Linked DNA regions of Homo sapiens. The protein of the gene in region 3 purifies or fractionates together with the protein of the main gene of each other region. This does not show direct contact. Each region holds a gene or a part of one and is shown on either strand. Other genes may lie near its edges. The genes, in order: POTEF, PDCD6 and TKT.

The links.
Region 1: the proteins of TKT (region 3) and POTEF purify together in Homo sapiens (affinity purification with mass spectrometry; 2 studies listed by BioGRID and IntAct, with this or other methods). This does not show direct contact.
Region 2: the proteins of TKT (region 3) and PDCD6 fractionate together in Homo sapiens (co-fractionation; one large-scale study listed by BioGRID). This does not show direct contact.

What each region holds. Positions count from the first base shown.
Region 1 is NC_000002.12:130,073,549-130,077,299, forward strand, and holds part of POTEF (POTE ankyrin domain family member F), read right to left. Parts: intron 3,654-3,751; coding exon 3,533-3,653; intron 2,025-3,532; coding exon 696-2,024; 3' UTR 1-695.
Region 2 is NC_000005.10:278,036-281,686, reverse strand, and holds part of PDCD6 (programmed cell death protein 6), read right to left. Parts: intron 1-3,651. UniProt on the Homo sapiens protein: Calcium sensor that plays a key role in processes such as endoplasmic reticulum (ER)-Golgi vesicular transport, endosomal biogenesis or membrane repair.
Region 3 is NC_000003.12:53,246,015-53,249,665, forward strand, and holds part of TKT (transketolase), read right to left. Parts: intron 1-3,651. UniProt on the Homo sapiens protein: Catalyzes the transfer of a two-carbon ketol group from a ketose donor to an aldose acceptor, via a covalent intermediate with the cofactor thiamine pyrophosphate.

The DNA.
Region 1 (3,751 bases), on a different chromosome or scaffold from region 3:
CTCGTTGTGTCTTACATTGTCCAGTTCAGAACTGAGCATTTTATTCTCAGTTGTCAACATGCTAAGCTGTCCACTGTACTGAAATACTGTGCTTCCTCAATTTGTTTTAAGGTGTGCACTTTTATCCAACTCTCCTCAAGTCAGAGTACAGGTAAGCCCTGGCTGCCTCCAGCCACTCTCAGGGAGACCAAAAGCCTTCATACACCCCAAGTTGGGGTACAAAAGAGGGGGGCCACGAAGGCTGATCATTCAAAATAAAACAAAATTAAAAAGTATTAAGGCGAAGATTCAAAAAATTTTGCATTATGTAATTTGCACAAAAGCAATGCTATCACCTCCCCTGTGTGAACTAGGGAGAGGACTGGGCCATTCTCCTTAGAGAGAAGTGGGGTGGCTTTTAGCAGGGCAAGGGGCTTCCTGAAACAATGCGTCTCACAATATTTGGAATGACTATTGAAAAGAAGAACAAGGTACAATCAAAGTCCTTGGCCACATTGTAGAACTTTGGAGGAAGCTTCCTCCAACCGACTGCTGTCACCTTCACCATTCCGGTTTTTAAATCCTGAGTCAAGCCAATAAAAAACAAAACAAAAAATGAAACAAGAAAACAAATAAAGCCATGCCAATCTCATGTTGTTTTCTGAGAAGTTTGGTTTTGTCAAGAAAGGGTGTAACGCAACTAAGTCAGAGTCCACCTACAAGCATTTGCGGTGGACAATGGAGGGGCCTGACTCATCATACTCCTGCTTGCTGATCCACATCTGCTGGAAGGTGGACAGCGAGGCCAGGATGGAGCCACCGACCCACACGGAGTACTTGCGCTTGGGAGGAGCAATGATCCTGATCTTCATCATGCTAGGCGCCAGGGCAGCGATCTCCTTCTGCATTCTGTGGGCCATGCCAGGGTACATGGTGGTGCCGCCAGACAGCACTGTGTTGGTGTACAGGTCTTTGCGGATGTCCACATCAGACTTCATGATGGAGTTGAAGGTAGTTTCATGGATGCCACAGGATTCCATGCCCAGGAAGCAAGGCTGGAAGAGCGCCTCGGGGCAGCGGAACCGCTCGTTGCCGATGGTGATGACCTGGCCATCGGGCAGCTCGTAGCTCTTCTCTAGGGAGGAGCTGGAGGCCACCGTGGCCATCTCCTGCTCGAAGTCCAGGGCAACATAGCACAGCTTCTCTTTGATGTCACGCACGATTTCCCGCTCGGCCATGGTGGTGAACCTATAGCCATGCTCGGTGAGGATCTTCATGAGGTAGTCAGGCAGTTCCCGCCCAGCCAGGTCTAGGCGCAGGGTGGCATGGGGGAGGGCATTCCCCTCATAGATGGGCACAGTGTGGGTGACCCCGTCACCAGAGTCCATCACGATGCCAGTAGTACGGCCAGAGGTGTACAGGGACAGCACAGCCTGGATGGCCACGTACATGGCTGGGGTGTTGAAGGTCTCAAACATGATCTGGGTCATCTTCTCGCGGTTGGCCTTAGGGTTCAGGGTGGCCTCGGTCAGCAGGACGGGGTGCTCCTCGGGAGCCACACGCAGCTCGTTGTAGAAGGTGTGGTGCCAGATCTTCTCCATGTCATCCCAGTTGGTGATGATGCCGTGTTCCATGGGGTACTTCAGGGTCAGGATGCCTCTTTTGCTCTGGGCCTCCTTGCCCACATAGGACTCTTTCTGATGCATGCCCCCCATCATGCCCTGCTGCCTGGGGCGCCCCACGATGGAAGGGAAGACAGCCCGGGGGGCATCGTCGCCCGCAAAGCCGGCCTTGCACATGCCAGAGCCGTTGTCAATGACGAGCACAGCGGTATCATCATCCATGGTGAGCTCATTCAATTGTAGAGCCTTTAAAAGATTATCATTCCTTTTTTTCACACTTTCAATATCCTCCAAATATTTCTTTTCTCTTAGCTGGCTCTGATGTTTCATTGTGTCTAGCTCCAGTCTTAGCATGGCAATTTCTTCCCGCAACGTACTATTTTCATGCAAGATGTCTTTTTCTTTCTTACAACTAAGAGAAAGCTAAGTAAACAAAGAGAACTTTTAGTTAGCACTCAATAGATTGACATATCATGATTTCTTCTGAAATTCAAAAATAACATGTATTTGTATAATGAAAGAATCCCCATAGTGGATATTTAACTGGAAAAAAATTGGACAAAACTTCAAACCTAATAAGAGTGTAAATTCCTCCAGTGATTTATTTTTCATCGTCTTTAAATAAATATTTAAACTTTTAGGAATCTGCTCCTAAATTCCTAAAAGTTTAAATATTTATTTAAAGACGATGAAAAATAAATCACTAGAGGATTTTTAAGAATCCCAGAATTAAAAAAAGCCTTTTTTCTGAGTTACAAAAAACCCAGAGGCATAAAATATAAGATTAATAATTTGACTACATTTTTAAGATTAGGTTTACACTCTGATATCTAACCTATCAACCACACCATCCTAAGAGCCTTAGCTATGCATATATTTGGACAGAAGCAATTTCTCAAAGTTCTTTAAGTTTCTTTTACTTAAGAACGTTTTACCGATATTCTACATTTCTAATATTTCTATACTCAGTTATAAGAATTACATTTATTTATAACTGTCAAATAAGCACTGTACCCTTCTACACTGTACACATCTGTATCTAGGCATTGCTCTTCTACATATAATACTGAACTCATTTAAGATCGCGATTCTTAAAAGGAGAGGTCAAAAAATATACACAGATGCAGGATTTTCCCCAGGTCTGCTGATGCTACTTCTAGTGATCCTCCACAAAACCACACTTACTTCTGTGGTGTAAATATATAAATACAAAAGAAACCTTTTGTTTCAAAATATGAATGGTAAATAAGATACAACTTATAGAGATTTTCTTAGAAATCATGAGATTATTTGCCATTGCGGTAACTTTTATTTCCTCTTTATAATGTTTGAAACAGTAGTAATGGTGAAATAGGGGAAATATACTGAACTATTTCTCCAGAAAGAAAATACTTATCAATAAATTATTACTAAATGTGTATCATGGCATGTCATTCTTTTCAAACCTCTTTACATTGAAATGAGAAACTACTTGGAGCAAACTGTTCCTCTCTGCAAAAGTAAGGATAATGGTATCCACAATGTGGCCTCTGACCCAGCTATACATTTCCTACTTTCTTATCAGTAAAAATAATCAATTGACTTCTCTATTAACATTTTTTAAAAAACTAATGTCCAAAAACGAGAAAATCTGTTTTCAGTAGCAAAACTTATTTCTGATGTGGAAAGATCATCAATTCTTATGAAAAATATCAAATACTTCTCCTTTGGATTGAGGCCATTGTGCAGGTCACTACTCAACTGTTGCAGGCAAATGAAGGTGAATTAAGAACATGGCTTTATCCTATACGTACGTATATAGATATATGACAAAGGATATATAGAATATATACACACATATATATGACTTAAAAATCCTTTATATTTCCAAAATACAGTTCTTTAAAATATACACACATATAAAAACATTTGAAAATAACTAAAGAAAATACCTCAGAATTCATTTTTTCAACCACTTCTATCTGCTTTTCTTCATGAATCAGAATCTCATCGTGTAATATTCCAGTGTTCTGTTCTTCACAAAATTGCTTCTGAGTATCATTTTGTTCGTCACTAGAAGAAATTTTAATTTTCATGAAATACTGGAGCTGTCCCTAAAATGATGTACAGGGCAAGATGGCGCCATCAGATGTCATTCACACAATGCATAT
Region 2 (3,651 bases), on a different chromosome or scaffold from region 3:
ATCAAACTAGAACCTCAGCTCCTCCCTGTGTCTCCAGCTCCACAACCCTCAAACTAGAACCACACCAGTTCCTCCCTGGTCTCCAGCTCTACGACCCACCAATTAAAATAACATCAGCTCCTCACAGATCTCCATCTGCATGACCCTCAAACTAGAACACCTCTCCCACCTGGATCTCCAGCTCCACGACCCTCACAGAACAGCCAAACCAGCTCCTTCACTGTCTTCAGCTCCACAACCTAAGACATCAGTGGCAGCACCAGCTCTTCCCTGGACCTCCAGCTCAACGACTCTCATAGACTTAAAAGGCAGCACCGGCTCCTCCCCAAGGCTCCATCTCCACCACCTTCAGATTTGAACAGCGATAGCACCAGCTCCTCTCCAGGTCTTCAGCCCCAAGACCCTCCCTGACCAATCCCTTCTTACGAAATTCAGCAGTCAAGAAAACTGCAGCAGAAGTAAATGAATAAATGTTTTGTTTTCAAATCGATGTCTCTTTTATGTTCATGAGTTAACTTTTCTACTTTCCATTAGCCTTGCAATCTACTTATGTCCAATGTGAAACAGAAACACACCATTTGAAATCACGTTTAAAAACTTAGTAGTATTTTTAAAGAAAATCACCACACAGCTGTAGATGCGATCTTATTTCTCTCTGCCTGTGCAGAAGTCTTATGAAAATTCGAACTATGAATTTACTTTGTTGAGATTCCCAGAATACACATTAATCCCAACTGTTACTCCCCTCCTTAAAATCTTTTAACATATTCCCATCACTTGAGCATAAATGCCAGCTCCCATCCACAGCCCAAAGTGCCCAGCACGGCCCTGCCCTCTACCCTGGTCTATGGTCTCCCCTCTTAAATGCCAGCTCCCATCCACAGCCCAAAGTGCCCAGCACGGCCCTGCCCTCTGCCCTGGTCTATGGACTCCCCTCTTAAATGCCAGCTCCCATCCACAGCCTACAGTGCCCTCACAGCCCTGCCCTCTGCCCTGGTCTATGGACTCCCCTCTTAAATGCCAGCTCCCATCCACAGCCTACAGTGCCCTCACAGCCCTGCCCTCTGCCCTGGCCTGTGGTCTCCACTCTGGTGCCTGGCCCAGCCCTCCCCACCCCTCTGCCCTGGCTTATGGTCTCCCCTCTTAAATGCCAGCTCCCATCCACAGCCCACAGTGCCCAGCACAGCCCTGCCCTCTACTTCGGTCTATGGTCTCCCCTCTTAAATTCCAGCACCATCCACAGCCCACAGTGCCCGGCACAGCCCTGCCCTCTGCCCTGGTCTATGGTCTCCCCTCTTAAATGCCAGCACCATCCACAGCCCACAGTGCCCAGCACAGCCCTGCCCTCTGCTCTGGCCTAAGGTCTCTCCCCTGTGCTGTTCCCTTCCTGCCGGACAGGCCTCTATCCGTTCCTCAAACCACACAGGCTCAGGCCTGACTCCAGGCCTTTGCCCTGCTGTGCCCTCTGCCTAGGGTGCCTTTCCCGGGCTCTGCATCCTCCTCTCAACCCGCTGAGCTCCAGCCTGCTGGTCGCCCCTCAGGTGGATGAACACATGGTGTCCTCTCGCCCCGCTGGCTTTTGCACAGGCTCTTCTCTGTGCCAGACACAAACCCTCTCTATCGGGGTTTACTCTCTAAATACCATTCGTCCTTGGAGTCTCCACTGAAATATCGCTCCCTGCCCACCCCCCTCCCTTGGACTTAACCTTGGTTAGGTTGCCAACCCCCGTCTCCTGACTCCGGGAAGCTAGATGCTCTCCTAGCACTCGGAACTTGCCCATCGCCACATTTTGCACACCCGTGATTACTGGGTTAGGTTGGCGCACAAGTCATCGCAGTTTTTGCCATTACTATTAATGAACTGCAGCACCGGCTCCTCGTTTTTTTTTTTTTTTTTTTTTTTGCCATTACTTTTAATGACTGCTGCACCAACCTATTAGAATCATTTATATTTATTCATCCATCATCTGCCTTCCCCTCTAGAAAGGAAGCTCCATGAGAATAGAGGCCAAATCTACTCAAATAACTCCACCTTCCCACACATTGTCAATAATCATTTACCAACTGACTGATAGAGAAATGCCTTCCCTGTTGCTGGGATGAGGCACATGACACGCCCCTTTGAAAGTCACTGTCATGGACAGTTGGCATTTGCTCTTCACTGCTGCACCCGTGGCGTGGCTGGGCTTAGGCTGATCTAGTCTGGCCTTGACTCTAGGCTGAGGGTGGGAACCATGCCTGCTCCACACGCCTCTCATTCCACAGCCAGAGCCGCCGTTCCCTGGGGCACGCATATCTCGTGGGGAAAATCAAGAGCCTAAGAGGGCAGGCCTGGCAGTGCCACACATTCCAGGCTTCTGCTTGTGCCGTGTCTGTGAAAATCTCGTTGGCAGAAGCAAGTCACCCAGCCACAAGCAACACCTATAAGTCCATCCACCCTCCCTCCGGCCCTGGCAAGGATGCGGCTGCGTCATACTCTTAGGGGGGAATGAAAAACTGAGGCCCAAAATTAAATCACCCATGGCAAGAAATGTCAGTCTCTGTGTCCCCACACTGGAATTCTTCTTCACCAGCGGGTTTGCCTGAGCTGACTTCCCTTTGCAATGGTGTCTGCAGGTTTAGGCCAATGCTGTTCCCCATGGAGGACAGAGAAGCCTCAACGGGCCTCTCTGTTGGGAAGAACAAGATATTAGCTTGGCGCGAAACAACCGCAAGCCACAGGTGGCCCACACCCCGTGAGACAGGAGAGGGGCAGAGAACTGTGGGAACTCAGGAAAGCTTGCATCCCTAGCCCCTCCCATGTCCCCAGCCCCTCCCGTGTCCCCAGCACCCTCCCCCGCATCCCCAGCACCCTCCTGTGTCCCCAGCACCCTCCCCTGCATCCCCAGCACCCTCCCCTGTGTCCCCAGCCCTCTCCCCTGCTTGCCCCATCTCTTTCTTTTTTTCATTTTCTTTCTTTCCTTTTGTTTTATTTGAGACAGGGTCTGGCTCTGTCACCCAGGCTGGAGTGCAATGGCACGATCTCGGTTTACTGCAACCTTCACCTCCTAGGCTGAAGCAATTCTCCCTCCTCAGCCTCCCCAGTGGCTGGGACTACAGATGCACGCCACCATACCCAGCTAAATTTTTTTTTTTTTTTTGGGAGAGACAGGATCTGCCATGTTGCCCAGGCTGGTCTCAAATTCCTGAGCTCAAGTAATCCTCCCACCTCAGCCTCCCAAAGTGCTGGGATTACAAGCATGAGCCACCGAGTCCAGCCTGCTTTATTTTTCTCTACAGTACTTGGAATCTTCTAATATACTAAGGACACGTGTATTTTCTTTCTGTCTTCCCTAGAACAGGAGCTTAATGTGGGCAGGTATTTTTGTTGATCTCATTTATCACCCTATCCCCAGTGCCTGGACAGGGTCTGGCACATGAATGGTGTGTTCTAAATAAATATTTTTAATAGATAAATAAATGAAATATCCTACAAGAGAAAGCTATATCTGGAACTCACCCACCAACAGAACCTAAAAGCCAAAGACCTTTAGCCTGTCTCTGCCTCTGAACACACCCAACCCCGGAGGAGCCAGCAGAGGAAAAAGAGGACAAAGGTGGGGAAGGGAGCAGGTGGTGCCCACCAAGTAAGGAACCCTGAGGCTTAGGCGG
Region 3 (3,651 bases):
CCCAGCACTCTGGGAGGCTGAGGTGGGTGGATCAACTGAGGTCAGGAGTTCGAGACCAACCTGGCCAACATGGTGAAACCCTGTATCTACTACAAATACAAAAATTAGCTGGGCATGGTGGCAGGCACCCGTAATCCCAGCTACTTGGGAAGCTGAGGCAGGAGAACCACTTGAACCCAGGAGGCTGAGGTTGCAGTGAATCAAGATCGTGCCATTGTACTCTAGACTCGGTGACAGAGTGAGACTCCATCTCAGGAAAAAAACAACAACAACAACAAAAAAAAGGAAACACAAACAGGGCTGCCCCGCATTGTTTGCAATTGCAAGACCTGGAACTCACTTATATGTTTATCAATAGACGAGGTTAACTGGAATATATTAATATAATGGGATACTATACAGCAGTAAGAATGAGCGAGCTACACTTCACAAATCCGGTATCAATATTCTCTCCCAAATATAGTGTGAAAAAAGCACAGTGCAGAAGGATCTGTTTAACAAAGAAGACCATATTGATTTATGTACAAGTCTTTTTGTATATACTACAAGGAAAACAGGCCAGGTGCGGTGGCTCAAGCCTGTAATCCCAGCACTTTGGGAGGCCGAGGAGGGCAGATCACCTGAGGTCATGAGTTTGAGACCAGCTTGACCAACACGGATAAACCCCATCTCTACTAAAAATACAAAATTAGCCGGGCATGTGGCACATGCCTGTAATCCCAGCTACTCGGGAGGCTGAGACAGGAGAATCGTTTGAACCCGGGAGGCGGAGGTTGAAGTGAGCCGAGATGGCGCCATTGCACTCCAGCCTGGACAACAAGAGCAAAACTCCGTCTCAAAAAAAAAAAAAAGGAAAACAATAGAATGATAACAAACAAAAAATTCAGGGTATAGTTCTTTCTCAGGGGAAGGGAAGATGAGGATGGAGGGACCCACTGTAGTTCCAAAAATCACTGTAATGTACTAGTTCTTAATCCTGGGAGCAGCTACACACAGGTTCATTATTTATGACAAGAGTACATCATTTATCTTCTTCTTTATGCATATACTTTTTTTTTTTTAAATATTCAGGTGGCTCACGCCTATAATCCCAGCACTTTGGGAGACAGAGACAGGTGGATCACCTGAGGTCAGGAGTCTGAGACCAGCTTGGCCAACAAGGTGAAACCCCGTCTCTACTAAAAATACAATAATTAGTTGGGCATGGTGGTGGGTGCCTGTAATCCCAGCTACTTGGGAGACTGAGGCAGGAGAATCGCTTGAACCTGGGAGGCAGAGGTTGCAGTGAGCTGAGATCTCACCATTGCACTCCAGCCTGGGAGACAAGAGTGAAACTCAGCCTCAAAAAAAAAAAAAAAAAAAAATTTAGAAGAGGCCAGGGGCGGTGGCTCACCTGAGGCACCTGAGGTCAGGAGTTCAAGACCGGCCTGGCCAACATGGCAAAACCCCGCCTCTACTAAAAACACAAAAATTAGCTGGGCATGGTGGTGCGGGCCACTAGTCCCAGCTACTTTACATGGGAGGCTAAGGCAGGAGAATTGCTTGAACCTGGGAGGCAGAGGCTGCAGTGAGCCGAGATCGCACCACTGCACTCCAGCCTAGGCAACAGACTCCACCTCAAAAAAAAAAAAAAAAAAAAAAAATACTCAGGAGAGAATCCCAGGATGTCAGGGTGGAAATGAACATCAGAAGCAGTTCTTGCTCTTCCTGTGCCCTGAACTACCCGAGCTGGCTTCTGCCCGGAAAGAACCTCTGGCTCCAGACCTCAGGTTGTTTCTTCAGATCTCTGCCCCATGTCACCTCTTCCAAGAAGCCCTCCCTGACCACACTGTCTAAAATAGCTCTTCTTCCCCTCACTCATGCTTGCCACCTGACATTAGGTGGTTATTGCCTGTCTACCCTACTGCAATACAAGCTCCTTGAGGACAGAGCTTTGGGCCTTTCACTGTTGTATCCACAGGCTTGAATAGTACCAGGCACAAACTGAGTGCACAAATGAATACATGATGTATCCTAGTAACCTTGGGGCTGTAACCTCTTTGAGCCTCAGTTTCCTCACTATAAAACGGAGGTAAAAGAAGAATCTGACTAAATGATGTAGTGTGTATGTACAGAACGTGGCACCATGCATAGAAATTAGCAATTGCTCAGTAAATATTAGACTATGCTTCATTCGGAGGATGGGGCCACTAAGGTTCACAGAAAGTGACTTGCCTAAAGTCACACGGCCTGCCAGCAGCAGAGCTAGGATAAGAGCAAAATGCTAAGAAAAACTGGTGAATGGATAAACAAAATGCACTATGTCCACACAACGGAATATTCAGCCGTAAAAAGAAATGAAGGGCTGGGCGTGGTGGCTCATGCCTGTTAATTCCAGCACTTTGAGAGGCCAAGGCAGGAAGAGGACTTGAGCCCAGAATTTGAGACCAGGCTCAGCAACATACCCTGTCTCTACAAATAATTTTTAAAATTAGCTGTGTATGGTGGTGAGTGCCTCCCAGCTACTTAGGAGGCTGAGCTGGGAAGACTGCTTGATCCCGGGAGGTTGAGGCTGCAGTGTGCCATGACTGTGCCATTGCACTCCAGCTTCGGGACACAGTGGAGACCCTGCCCCCCACCCCCCAAAAAAAAGGAACAAAGTACTGATTCATGTTACAACATGGATGACCCTCTAAAAATTATGCTAAGAGGCCAGACCCAAAAGAACTCATTCTGTATAATTGCATTTATATGAAATGTCTAGAAGAGTTAAATTTAGAGACAGAAAATTAGATTAGTGGTTGCCCAGGACTGGGGGTGGAAATGGGGAGTGACAGCAAATGTCCAGAAGAGATCTTTTAGGAGATGTGGTAAATTTTTGTAGTAAATCTCTGCAAATTCATTAAAATCACTTACAATGTTATGATACGCCAATTATACCTTAATCAAGCTGCTAGAAATTTGTTTTTATTTTTATTTATTTATTTATTTGAGACAAGTTCTCACTCTGTCACCCAGGCTGGAGTGCAGTGGTACAATCTTGGCTCACTGCAACCTCCGCCTCCCGGGTTCAAGCGATTCTCATGCCTCAGCCTCCCGAGTAGCTGGGGTTACAGGTGCCTGCTACCATGCCCGACTCATTTTTTTTGTATTTTTTAGTAGAGACAGGGTTTCACCATGTTGGCTGGGCTGTCTCGAACTCCTGACCTCAAATGATCCACCCACCTTGGCCTCCCAAAGTGCTGGGATTACAGGTGTGAGCTATCACACCTGGCCTAAAAATTTGTTTTTAAAAGAAAAAGGGCCTGGAGCAGTGGCTCACGCCTGTAATCCCAACACTTTGGGAGGCCAAGGCTGGCGGGAGGATCACCTGAGGTCAGGAATTCAAGACCAGCCTGGCCAACATGGTGAAACCCCATCCCTACTGAAAATGCAAAAATTAGCTGGGCAGTGGTGGCATGCACCTGTAATCCCAGCTACTTGGGAGACTGAGGCAGAAAATCGCTTGAACCTAGGATGTGGAGGTTACAGTGAGCCAAGATCGCCGCCCCACTGCACTCCAGCCTGGGTGACAGAGCGAGACTCTGTCAAACAAACAAATAAATGAAGAAAAAGGTGCTAGGAGAGCTCAGTAGAGGAAGTTCTTGGGCGTCCACACTTCCCTTCCAGCTG